Regions from separate parts of the Homo sapiens genome. Here region 2 is linked to region 1. Evidence: fine-mapped expression QTL. Tissue or cell type: whole blood. Region 1 holds a variant in brackets; the other region holds the start of a gene. All regions are shown on one strand. Distances are from middle to middle.

The links. PIP is the estimated chance that this variant, and not a neighbour inherited with it, causes the effect.
Region 2: PRKCH starts here. The variant in region 1 is fine-mapped to the expression of PRKCH in whole blood (TOPMed, PIP 0.99).

The regions. Positions count from the first base shown.
Region 1 is chr14:61,388,606-61,393,832 of GRCh38, forward strand. It overlaps PRKCH (protein kinase C eta), which reads left to right. Exons shown (of 14, transcript NM_006255.5): 2 at 2,620-2,683. Among named protein-coding and RNA genes, the nearest start is that of PRKCH-AS1, 68 kb to the left of the region's middle. RefSeq lists an enhancer at 1-269. The variant G/A (reference allele first, on the strand shown) is at 2,426.
Region 2 is chr14:61,318,669-61,323,895 of GRCh38, forward strand. It overlaps PRKCH (protein kinase C eta), which reads left to right and starts at 2,911. Exons shown (of 14, transcript NM_006255.5): 1 at 2,911-3,796. The coding sequence starts at 3,434. PRKCH-AS1 (PRKCH antisense RNA 1) reads right to left here and starts at 4,150. Exons shown (of 5, transcript NR_186042.1): 1 at 3,867-4,150. RefSeq lists silencers at 1-77, 2,704-2,973, 3,124-3,293 and enhancers at 3,255-3,799, 3,800-4,343.

The sequences.
Region 1 (5,227 bases):
TGGCAGGCCTTTATATTGAAGATGAGGGAGTGTGGCTTTTAAAAATAATGTATTTTTGACTTGAAACAAGTCAAGGCAGAGAGTGGAGACAATTAGAGGCTGATATCCTGTTTAGTCATCTCTCTAGAGAGCTCTATTTTCAGAGCTGTTCTATAAAGGTTCACAAGTGGTATTAAGATAGTTAAGAGGATATTGTTAACAGTAGTCATGATGCAAGTAGCTGATTTGAACAGGGAGGTGATTTATAGTGTGGTAACCACATTGGTAACAGGTTTTATGCAGAGAAAGGGTGGGTTGTAAGAATAGGTTGTTATACAGGTTAAGCTTTCTGAATCTGAACAAAGCAGGCATCTTTTATTTTGAAAAAGTATATAATCAGGGTGTGGTGGTGACCTAGGGTAAGTCCAGTGCATTTTTGGGGGCTTTGTCATGGGTAGATACAATAAATTTTAAAAAAGTAAACAGTACTGTTAAGAATCTTTGAGATTGGCTGGGCATGGTGGCTCTCGCCTGTAATCCCAGCACTCTGGGAGGCCAAGGCGGGCGGATTGCCTGGTCTCAGGAGTTCAAGACCAGTCTGGGCAACATGCCTCTCTAAGCCAGGCATGATGGCATGTGCCTGTGGTCCCAGCTACTTGGGGGGCTGAGGCAGGAAAATCACTTGAACCCAGGTGGTCGAGGCTACAGTGAGTCATGATTGCAGCATTGAAGTCCAGCCTGGGTGACAGAGGGAGACTCTGTCTTAAAAAAAAAAAAAATCTTTGAGATCATATGTGGAGGCTGTGTTAGAAACGCTAGGCCAATGCCAGGCACAGTGACTCACACTTGTAATCCCAGTGACTTGAGAGGCTGAGGTGGGAGGATTGCTTGAGCCTAAGAGTTTGAGACTGGGCAACATAGTGAGACCTTGTCTCTACATACATACATACATACCTAGATAAGCAGGCAAGCTGGTTATGGTGGCACATGCCTATAGTCCTAGCTACTTGGGAGGCTGAGGCAGGAGAATCGCTTGAGGCTGGGAGTTCAAGGCTGCAGTGAGCTATGATTGTGCCACTGCACTCCAGCCTGGGAGACAGTGAGACCCTGTCTCAAAAAAAAAAAAAAAGAGAAAAAATGCTAAATAATGATGCCATAGACTTTTCAGATTGGAAGAGTGAGGCTCAGTGTGGTAAAGGACCTTGCCCAGGGTCCAGAACCAGCTGTGACAGAATCAGACTAGAGTTCTTGGCCTGGTCTAGTAGGGGGGCTCTTTCCACTGTACCATGTGACTATTTGCAGCTTATTTTAAATTTAATATTTGACCAAAAATGGTCATTCGTATCTCTAGTGAAACTTCTCTATATGCCAGTCTTCCTCTTCAGATGAAAGGTCAAAGGCAGAAATGGAGCCACAGCCAAAGAAAGAGAAAAATAAAATAAAAATGGAGCCATGGGCAGAATCTGAAAAGATTTATTTAAGGACAATTGTAAATTCATGTATTTGAGTCCACAAGAGCCTCACAATGCAAGGCTTAGAGGTGTTCATGGATAGTGAAGTTAGCATCCGGTAGGAAGAGGGGAGTCCGCCCACCTAAGCTAGTGGTGATCAGAACAGAGCCAGAGGTGCTGTTCATCCTGGGCGCCATGCTGTATGGGGTCTTTCGGAAACTGGACTATATGCAGAGGACGACACCATATGAAAAGACTTCAAGCTGCATTGCTTGCAGAATGCATGTCTTGATATTTCAGCTGATAGGTAACTTCAAGGTATGTTGATACTCCCGTGACTAATTAAGAGTAGCAGTCCGACACAGTGTCTCACGCCTGTAATCCCAGCACTTTGGGAGGCTGAGGCGGGAGGATCATTTGAAGTCAGGAGTTCGAGACCAGCCTGGCCAACATGGTGAAACCCCATCTCTACTAAAAAATACAAAAACAGATCAGATGTGGTGGCACACGCCTGTAATCCCAGCTACTCAGGAGACTGAGGCAGAATTGCTTGAACCTAGGAGATGGAGGTTGCAGTGAGCTGAGATCATGCCACTGCACTCCAGCCTGGGCAACAAAGTGAAACTACCTCTCTCTCTCAAAAAAAAAAGAGTAGTGAATGCAAGGCTCCTAAACTTCCTTCCCTAGTGCTTCCTTAAGATTGACCAGACTTTGGTGGAAATATGTAGCAGAGACTCTTTATACTTTTTACTCCATAAAACTAAAGATTTGCAGTTGACCAAGCCACATGTGTTCATTACCTTGTATGTTGCCGTTATTTCTCTATTTCATATTCTTGCCATGTGGTTTAGTAAAATGCTGCTCTTATAAGCCATATGCATAAGATATGGAGGTCTCAAAAACAATTACCAAGTATGTGGATGTGCCTGTCTATATTATGACAAGCCAAAAATGGGAGAGAATAAAATTCAAGAGGAAGGAAACTGATAAAATGT[G/A]GTTTCTTTTCAGTCTTTACAGTTTTTTGAGCTTTCACTTGTTTCCCTGCCACTCTACTATTTAATGAAAGACTTAGATTTATTTGATTTGTGGCTGTGATTTACACATTAGGCCTCTCTGTGATGAATTGTTTAAGGCCCACAAAAATATTTTAAAACTAACATATAATATACATTTTTTTTTCTCTTTGTAGGTGGATCTCGAGCCAGAGGGGAAAGTATTTGTGGTAATAACCCTTACCGGGAGTTTCACTGAAGGTAAGAATGAGTTTTGGGTAGTTTCCAGAATACATGTAATCTTGGTTTACACTCAGTAGGAATTTCTATCATGGACATTATAAAAAAGAGCATGTTGTAAGAGATGCTTAAAAAATCACTTTCATAAGTTGGGCTGGCTAGTATTTTGTTGCCCAGTGGTCTATTGGTTCAGGTTGCCAAATTAAATATATTTGCTAAATCTGGCAATCTCACGTTTCATTTAACACACTCAATGAGTTTTTGTTTTTAGCCAGTGTCATCGTAGCTGAATGGTTTTTGCGTCTTTTTGGTTCATGACTGTGGAACTCTACGTCTTTGGTTTTGTGCCATCTTTTAGTTTGCCTGTGAATGTCTATGAAAGAAATTTAGGGATCCAGTTATCTTCTTTATAATCTCTATCTCATTTGTGACCTGTAAGGGATTCTGTTCTTCATCTGTGGCTACCGTACTCCCTACTCCCCCATCCAATATTTTTTTTACTTGAGGTAAAATTTATATGGGGGTGAAATGATAGATCAGAAGTGAACAATTTGAATTTTGACAAATGCATACAACTGCATAACCAGCACCCCAATCCAAGATACAGGACATTTCCATTATTGTGAACATTTCCCTGTACCCTTTTTCAATCCCCTGCTCCCAGAGGCAATAAGTAAAGTGCTTTATTTCACCACAGGTTAGTTTTACCTACCCTAGAAGTTCATATACATGGAATTATACAGTATATTCTCTTTTATGTCTGGTTTCTTTCACTCAGCATAGTTTTTAGAAGATTCATATCATTGTGTATATCAGTATTTTTTTCATTTTATTTCTGAGTAGTAGTATCCCATTATATAAATGTAGCATCCATTTGTTTACCCATTCTCCTCTTGGTGGACTTTTGGGGTTTTTCCTATTGTTGTCTATTATGAATAATGCTTTTATTAACCTTCTTACACATAAATTTTTCTGGACATAACACTTTCATTTATCTTGGATAATTATATAGGAGTGGAATTGCTGGGTAATAAAGTAGGTGTGTGTGTAACTTCAGAAGAAACTTCCAGATGGTTTCCAAAGTGGTTTTATTATACTCCCACCAGCAATGCATGAGAGTTCCAATTACTTCATATCCTCATTAACACTTTCTATGGCCATTGCTTTTCATCGTAGACATTCTAGTGGGTATGAAATTATATCCTGTGGGTAAATTTGCATTTCCCTGATGGTGAGTACTTTCTCACATGCTTATTGGTCATTTGTTTGTTTATTTGATAATTTCCAGTTCCAGTCTTTTGTCCTGTTTTCTAAAATTGGATTTGTCTTTCTATTATTGATTTAGAGGAGTTCTTTGTTTTCTGGATATGAGTCCTTTGTGAGAAATAGGTATTGTGATTACTTTTTCCCAGTCTGTGGCTTGCCTTTTCATTTTCTTAATGGTGTCTTTGAGCAAAAGTTTTAAATTTCTATGAAGTTCAATTTGTTAATCTCATCTTTTGTAGTTCATATGTTTTATGTCTTCAGAGATCTCTCTGTCATAGGATCACTAAGATATTCTCCTGTTTCTTTTTTTGTTTTTTTTTTTTAAGAAGCAAATAGTTTTAGGTTTTATGTTTAGGTCTGTATGCCTTCTTAAATTGATATTTGTGTGTGATGTTACAGAGGAGTTGAAACATTTTTTTTCAATACACGAATGCAGTTGTTCTAGCACCATTTATTAAAAGTCTCCCCTGGCCCCTTGAATCACCCTGGAACCTTTGTTGAAAATCAATTGACCATATAATGTGGGTCTGTTTCTGGATTATCTGTTCTGTCCTGTTGATCTGTTTGTCCATCTGATCTCTCTTTCTTTTCTCTACATTATGCCAGTATTACACTGTCTCATTACTGTTGCTTTATAGTGAGTCTTATGGTTACATAGTATGAGCCCTCCAACTCCGTTCTTTTTTGTATGTTTAAGGTTATTTTAGCTATTCTCAGTATTTTGCAATTTGATATCAGTTTTAGAGTCAGCTTATATATTTCCAGACAAAATCCTGCTGTATTTTGAATTGAAATTGTGTTGGATCTATAGATCAGTTTGAGGGGAATTAACATCTTAACAATCTTGAGTATCTTTAAACCCATCTGTAGTCAAATTAGTCAATTCTGTAGTCCGTGGACATGGTCTTTGCTCGTAAGGCATAGCCAGTGTGAGGTTTCAGTAGAAATCCCAAGGTGTTTTAAGCCCATTAATTTTATGTCACTCAAGCTTCTAACTCTTTCTCCTATGGGTGGGAAACAGCTGAAATCTCAGTTCCTATCTTTCAGCATCCTAGCTCTTGCTCCTGTCTGGACCTCTTAGAGTTTCCCTTGCACATGCACAGTTTAGGAAGATGTGAGGGCTTGAAGAGTTTACATATGTGGAGGTTCTTCTTTCTGTGGCCCCATCTTTCCAGGTTTTCTCCCCTCAATATCCAGTCATCTGGTAGGCTTGAATTTTGTCAATTCTGCCTTCAAGCCAATAAAACTGTGGTTCCATATTGAGTTCTATTTACCCAATCCTGCACAACCTGGGGAATA
Region 2 (5,227 bases), 70 kb before region 1:
CTTCATCTCCATCACTACCACCTGAGTCCTGGCCACCATCTTCTCACCTCTGGACTTTGGCAACAGCTTCATAAACTGGTCTCCCCACACTCGTGCTGCTTCTTCCAATCCACCCCCGAGAGAGATATTTTATTTTACTAAAAAAATAAAATGGGACTACAGGCACATGCCACCACATCCAGCTAATTTTTTTAGTTTTTATTTTTTGTAGAGACAGTCTTGCCATGTTGCCAAGGCTGGTCTTGAACTCCTGGGCTCAAGCAGTACTCCTGCCTCAGCCTCCCAAAGTGTTGGGTTTATAGGTGTGAGCCACCTTGCCTGTCCCCAGAGAGGTATTTTAAAACACAAATCCTCATCTTACCCTGGCTCTGCTTAACAGCCTTCAGAGGCGTCCAGTGGCCCATAGATAATGTCCAAGGCTTTCCTGTGATCTACCAGTCTGGTCAGTGTGACCACCTTTGCAAGCTCATTTCAGCCACTCTCCCCTCACCTTCCTCAGCTCCAGCCACGCCTTCCTCAGCTCCAGCCACGTAGGGTGCTTTTGGTTCCCAAACAGGCCAACCCATCTGTCTCCTCAGGAGCTCTCAATGAGCTGATCTCTCTGCTATTTGCTTTTTCAAGGAACCCTTCCCTGACCACCCATCCAGTTATAATACATCACCCCTTGGCACCGTGGGCTTTTCCTTCACTGCACCCTCTTCTATTAGTTGTTTTTCCTCCTTGTGGGACTGTAAGCCCCAGGAGGGCAGGCACCATGGCTGTCTGACCCACTGCTCTGTCACCATTGCCAATCCTGATAGGTACTGATAGGGTGAAGATGGAGTGTCTGGTATCGTCATATCCCAGTCCCAGGACAGCTGTGTGGCCACCTACCATTTGGGGACTGTTTTCTTTTTAAAATTTAAAAAAAAATTTAAAGTCTACACCCCATGATTCTGTATGGGGACTGTTTTCTTTTAGCCCCAAAGTCCAACAGGAGCAAATCCTTTAGTGGCTCTTAAAGCTAGAGTTCAGCTGTTTGGAGGAAAGGGTGACAGAGCTGACCCACAGGGTAGATGCGACATCTTCCCCTGGAGCACTAAGGCCAAACAGGAGCCCCCTGGACGTTTGGGAGCAGGCTTTACAAGCCCTGCCTAAAGCTAAGATGTCATTAGAGTGATGCGTTGCATCCCTGCCTTGTTCTCTAAGGAAGCTTTGGTGTTTTCAAGACAGGCCCTTTCCCCCCTGGCCCATTGTCCTTACTTGTTTTCATTCTGTATAGTGCTGTTATTACGGGTCAGGCCTCCTTGCACTCATGTGAAATCGTTGAGAACCTACTCAATTAGAAAGTTCTGAACAGGGCCTTAGAGGAGTGGGGGCTAGAAAGATGAACCTGGGGCCAGGCACGGGGGCTCATGCCTGTAATCTTAACACTTTAGGAGGCAGGGGCTGGAAGATCACTTGAACCTGGGAGCTGGAGGTTATGGTAAGCCATGATCACACCGCTGTATTCCAGCCTGGATGACAAAGCAAAACCCAGTCTCTAAAACATAAAAGAAAGAAAGGAGGGAAGGAAGAAAGAAAGGAATGAAAGCAAGCCGAATCTGCTCCGAGGGAACCAGTATAGCAAGACAGAATGTAATCAAGTATCTTAAGAGTGGCCTAGGCTTGGCTGGGTGCTGTGGCTCACGCCTGTAATCTCAGCACTTTGGGAGGCCGAGGCAGGCGAATCACTTGAGGTCGGGAGTTTGAGACCAGCCTGACCAACATGGAGAAACCCTGTCTCTACTAAAAATACAAAATTAGCCGGGCGTGGTGGCGCATGCCTGTAATTCCAGCTACTCGGGAGGCTGGGGCAGGTGAATCGCTCGAACCTGGGAGGCGGAGGTTGCGGTGAGCCGAGATGGCGCCATTGCACTCCAGCCTGGGCAACAAAAGCGAAACTCCGTCTCAAAAACAACAACAACAACAACAACAAAAAGTGGCCTAGGCTTTTTGGGGAACAAATTGGTTGTGGCTGGCCCTCAGGGAGCAAGCTTTGCGGCATAGCAGCGTAGGCTAAAAGGTCCTCCCCGGAGACAAAATCTGCAGGGACCACGGGGTGGGAAGCATCAGAAGGCTGCCCACTCTGACTGCAAATACAACAAGCTGGAGTGTTCCTAGAAGAGGCAATTTCTTCCGCGTGTGTGTTGGGGACAGCCTGTGTGTGTGAACATTTTCTGCCCTTGCCGCGCAGAGCTGGGTGGACCAGAAACCACCCGCAGAGGAAGAGACTTATTACCTCTTGGCCATGTCTGTCTCCAGAAGAACCGACCTTTCCTGCTCTATGTGCAACAAGACACACCTTCCGAGGAAGGAGGCGAACAGGATTTCCATCATTACTACTGCCCTATTAAAACACACACATACACACAACTGTGTAATTAGCCTCTGCAGGAAAGGCGCACAAACAGGATGCGTTCGAGCTGACCCCGGGATGAGCCATCCCTGTAAATATTAGGAAAAAGAACCTCCCCGCCGTGCCCCCGCCTCCGGCCAGGGCCTCTTGGGGATGGCCCTGCAGGGTCACCAGCCCACCGGGGAGGTTGGGAGAGAGGGGGCGGGCGACTCCTCGCCGCGCGGGTTCCTGGCTGGAGCGCCCTCCTCTGCGTCCTCCCAACCTTCCATCGCTCCCCAGGTCAGTCTACCACGCCTCAGGTGTTTGCTCGGGCTGGGCCACGAACCCTTTCCTTTTTGGCCTGCGCCCGGGGTGGCCCCTAACCCGCAGCGCACGGCCAGACCCAGCGCTACAAGGAGGGCGCGCAGGGCGGCGCAAGCGGGCACTGGCCTCCCGGGGGCTTGCGCGGGGATCCACCCACCGCAGGGCCGGGCCGCGGACCGCGGGCCACGCCCCTGGGGTCCGGAAGGCGCGGGAGCGGACGCGGGGGTTCTGTGAACTTGGAACCTGGCGGTGCGAGGTTCTCGCCGGGGATGCGGCGGCGGCAGCTGCTTCCTGGTTTGAAGCTCGCCGAGTGGGGGAGAGCGTGAGCCTTCGGAGGCGGGGGCAGGAGGAGAAGCAAGAGGAGGCGGGGGAAGAGACGCTTGGGGCTGGGGCTCACCGGACGGGTAGGTCCGGCTCTCCAGGGAGAGGAGCTGCCCGGCCCTGGAGAAGGGGCGAGTCCTGCGCGAGTCCCCGGGAGGCGCCGCGCGCTTGGAAGGGACGGTCGGGCTTCCCCGGCCCGCTGAGGGCTCGGCGGCGGGCTCCCCTCCTTTCCACCTCGGGAGGGAGGGAAGGAGGGGAGGGAAAAGTCCCACGGAGGAGGCAGAATGGCCAGTCGAGGGGCGCTTAGGCGCTGCCTTTCCCCAGGGCTGCCTCGACTCCTGCACCTGTCCCGAGGGCTGGCCTGAGACGGGACTCCCGGTTCTCCCGCTGCGAAGCAGCGCGGCCCCCCGGGGCCGGGGCAGCGGCGCCGGCATGTCGTCTGGCACCATGAAGTTCAATGGCTATTTGAGGGTCCGCATCGGTGAGGCAGTGGGGCTGCAGCCCACCCGCTGGTCCCTGCGCCACTCGCTCTTCAAGAAGGGCCACCAGCTGCTGGACCCCTATCTGACGGTGAGCGTGGACCAGGTGCGCGTGGGCCAGACCAGCACCAAGCAGAAGACCAACAAACCCACGTACAACGAGGAGTTTTGCGCTAACGTCACCGACGGCGGCCACCTCGAGTTGGCCGTCTTCCACGAGACGCCCCTGGGCTACGACCACTTCGTGGCCAACTGCACCCTGCAGTTCCAGGAGCTGCTGCGCACGACCGGCGCCTCGGACACCTTCGAGGGTTGGGTGAGTAGCGGTGACCCCTTCCCTTTGTGTCCACCCAACCCCCGTTCCCCTTATGTTTTTCAAAACTCACCCGGGTCCCGCTTTCCCATCGCTTTGTGGCTGAGGGAATTCCCTCCAGACTTTGGTCTTCGTCCACGTGGCCGCGGCACTGGTGACGCGACCGCGGTGGGTGTGTGCAGGCGCAGGTGTGTCTCCAGGAAGCCGGCCTGGACACGATCCCCTTTCAGGACAGCGGCTTGGCCTAACGGGAAGTCGGGCAGGGGTCCAGGGCGGTCACCCTTTCCGCCCAGTCTTTGGGTAAGGAGCTCCAACTTTCAGCACGAGAGTGATAGGTAGGAAAGGCAGGGAAGGAGTGATACAAAAGGGACTTGATTTGGGTAAAGTGCTTCAAGCGCTACTTAGGAGAAAGCCGTACATTCTCGCGAGTATTATTCATAATGTTTATGGATACATGTTGGTTCAGCCGCTCAGACGTGCACACGTGTTTCGGCTTGCACATCCCAGAGGTACATGAGCTACACTGGCAGGGAAATGAGCGCCTGGGTCTGCACGTTGGCAGTTTTATTATTTAGCATTTTTCCAAGGAGATGAGATTTACATATACTTGCAAGTAACTTAGTCAGTCCGAGGTGGGAGTCCTGCAGTGTGGGTTTCTGCTGCTATGGGTCTGAGAAGAGGCTGTAAGGACTCCTCAGGAGGTTGTTAACTGTCTTCCCTCCCCCCATCACCAGCCTGTGTTCCTGGGTATTGACGTGTAGCTACCCGCAGCTCTCCCCTTGCCTCTGCTTTTCACATAGTTCCCAGGAGGCATAATTTCTGCTGTAAATCAATTAAAACTTCTAGAGCGCTCTACACGGTGCTAACATGCTTTTACTGCCTAATCCTCACACTGTCTTTGTGATGCAGGTGTCATCGTTCCCACTTTGAGATGATGGAATGATAATTATAATAAAGTAGTCTGGTTTGGCAAAGTGGAGTACGCCATTTGAAGACTCTCAGGAGTTTAATAGTTTAAGTTCTGGAGGGAGTCAGTTTTGAACCCAATATCAGTATTGAAAATGTTTGAAATTTACAAGTGGTGAAATCAGATGGATGGTGATGAAGGCTCATTTAGGTATTTATTTTATACTTTGTGGAATTAGTAATTTTACCGTATATTTTCTAAAATTAAAGATGGCTTGTGGAGCTATTCCTTTCTTTTAAATAGAAGTACAAAAACCATAATGACTAACCTTAATCGTCAAATTATATTGAGTTAATTTCCCTTCAGCCTAATTTACTTTGTGGTACTTAGAAGTGGGGACTAGAGAGGAATTGCTAAAATACAGTTAGATATTTACATTTATCCTGTGAATTTCTGGAAATGAAATAGAAGTGAGTGTAGGCATCCAGATGGAATTGTTGAGTTCTATTAGTGTCTGATTAGGAGTT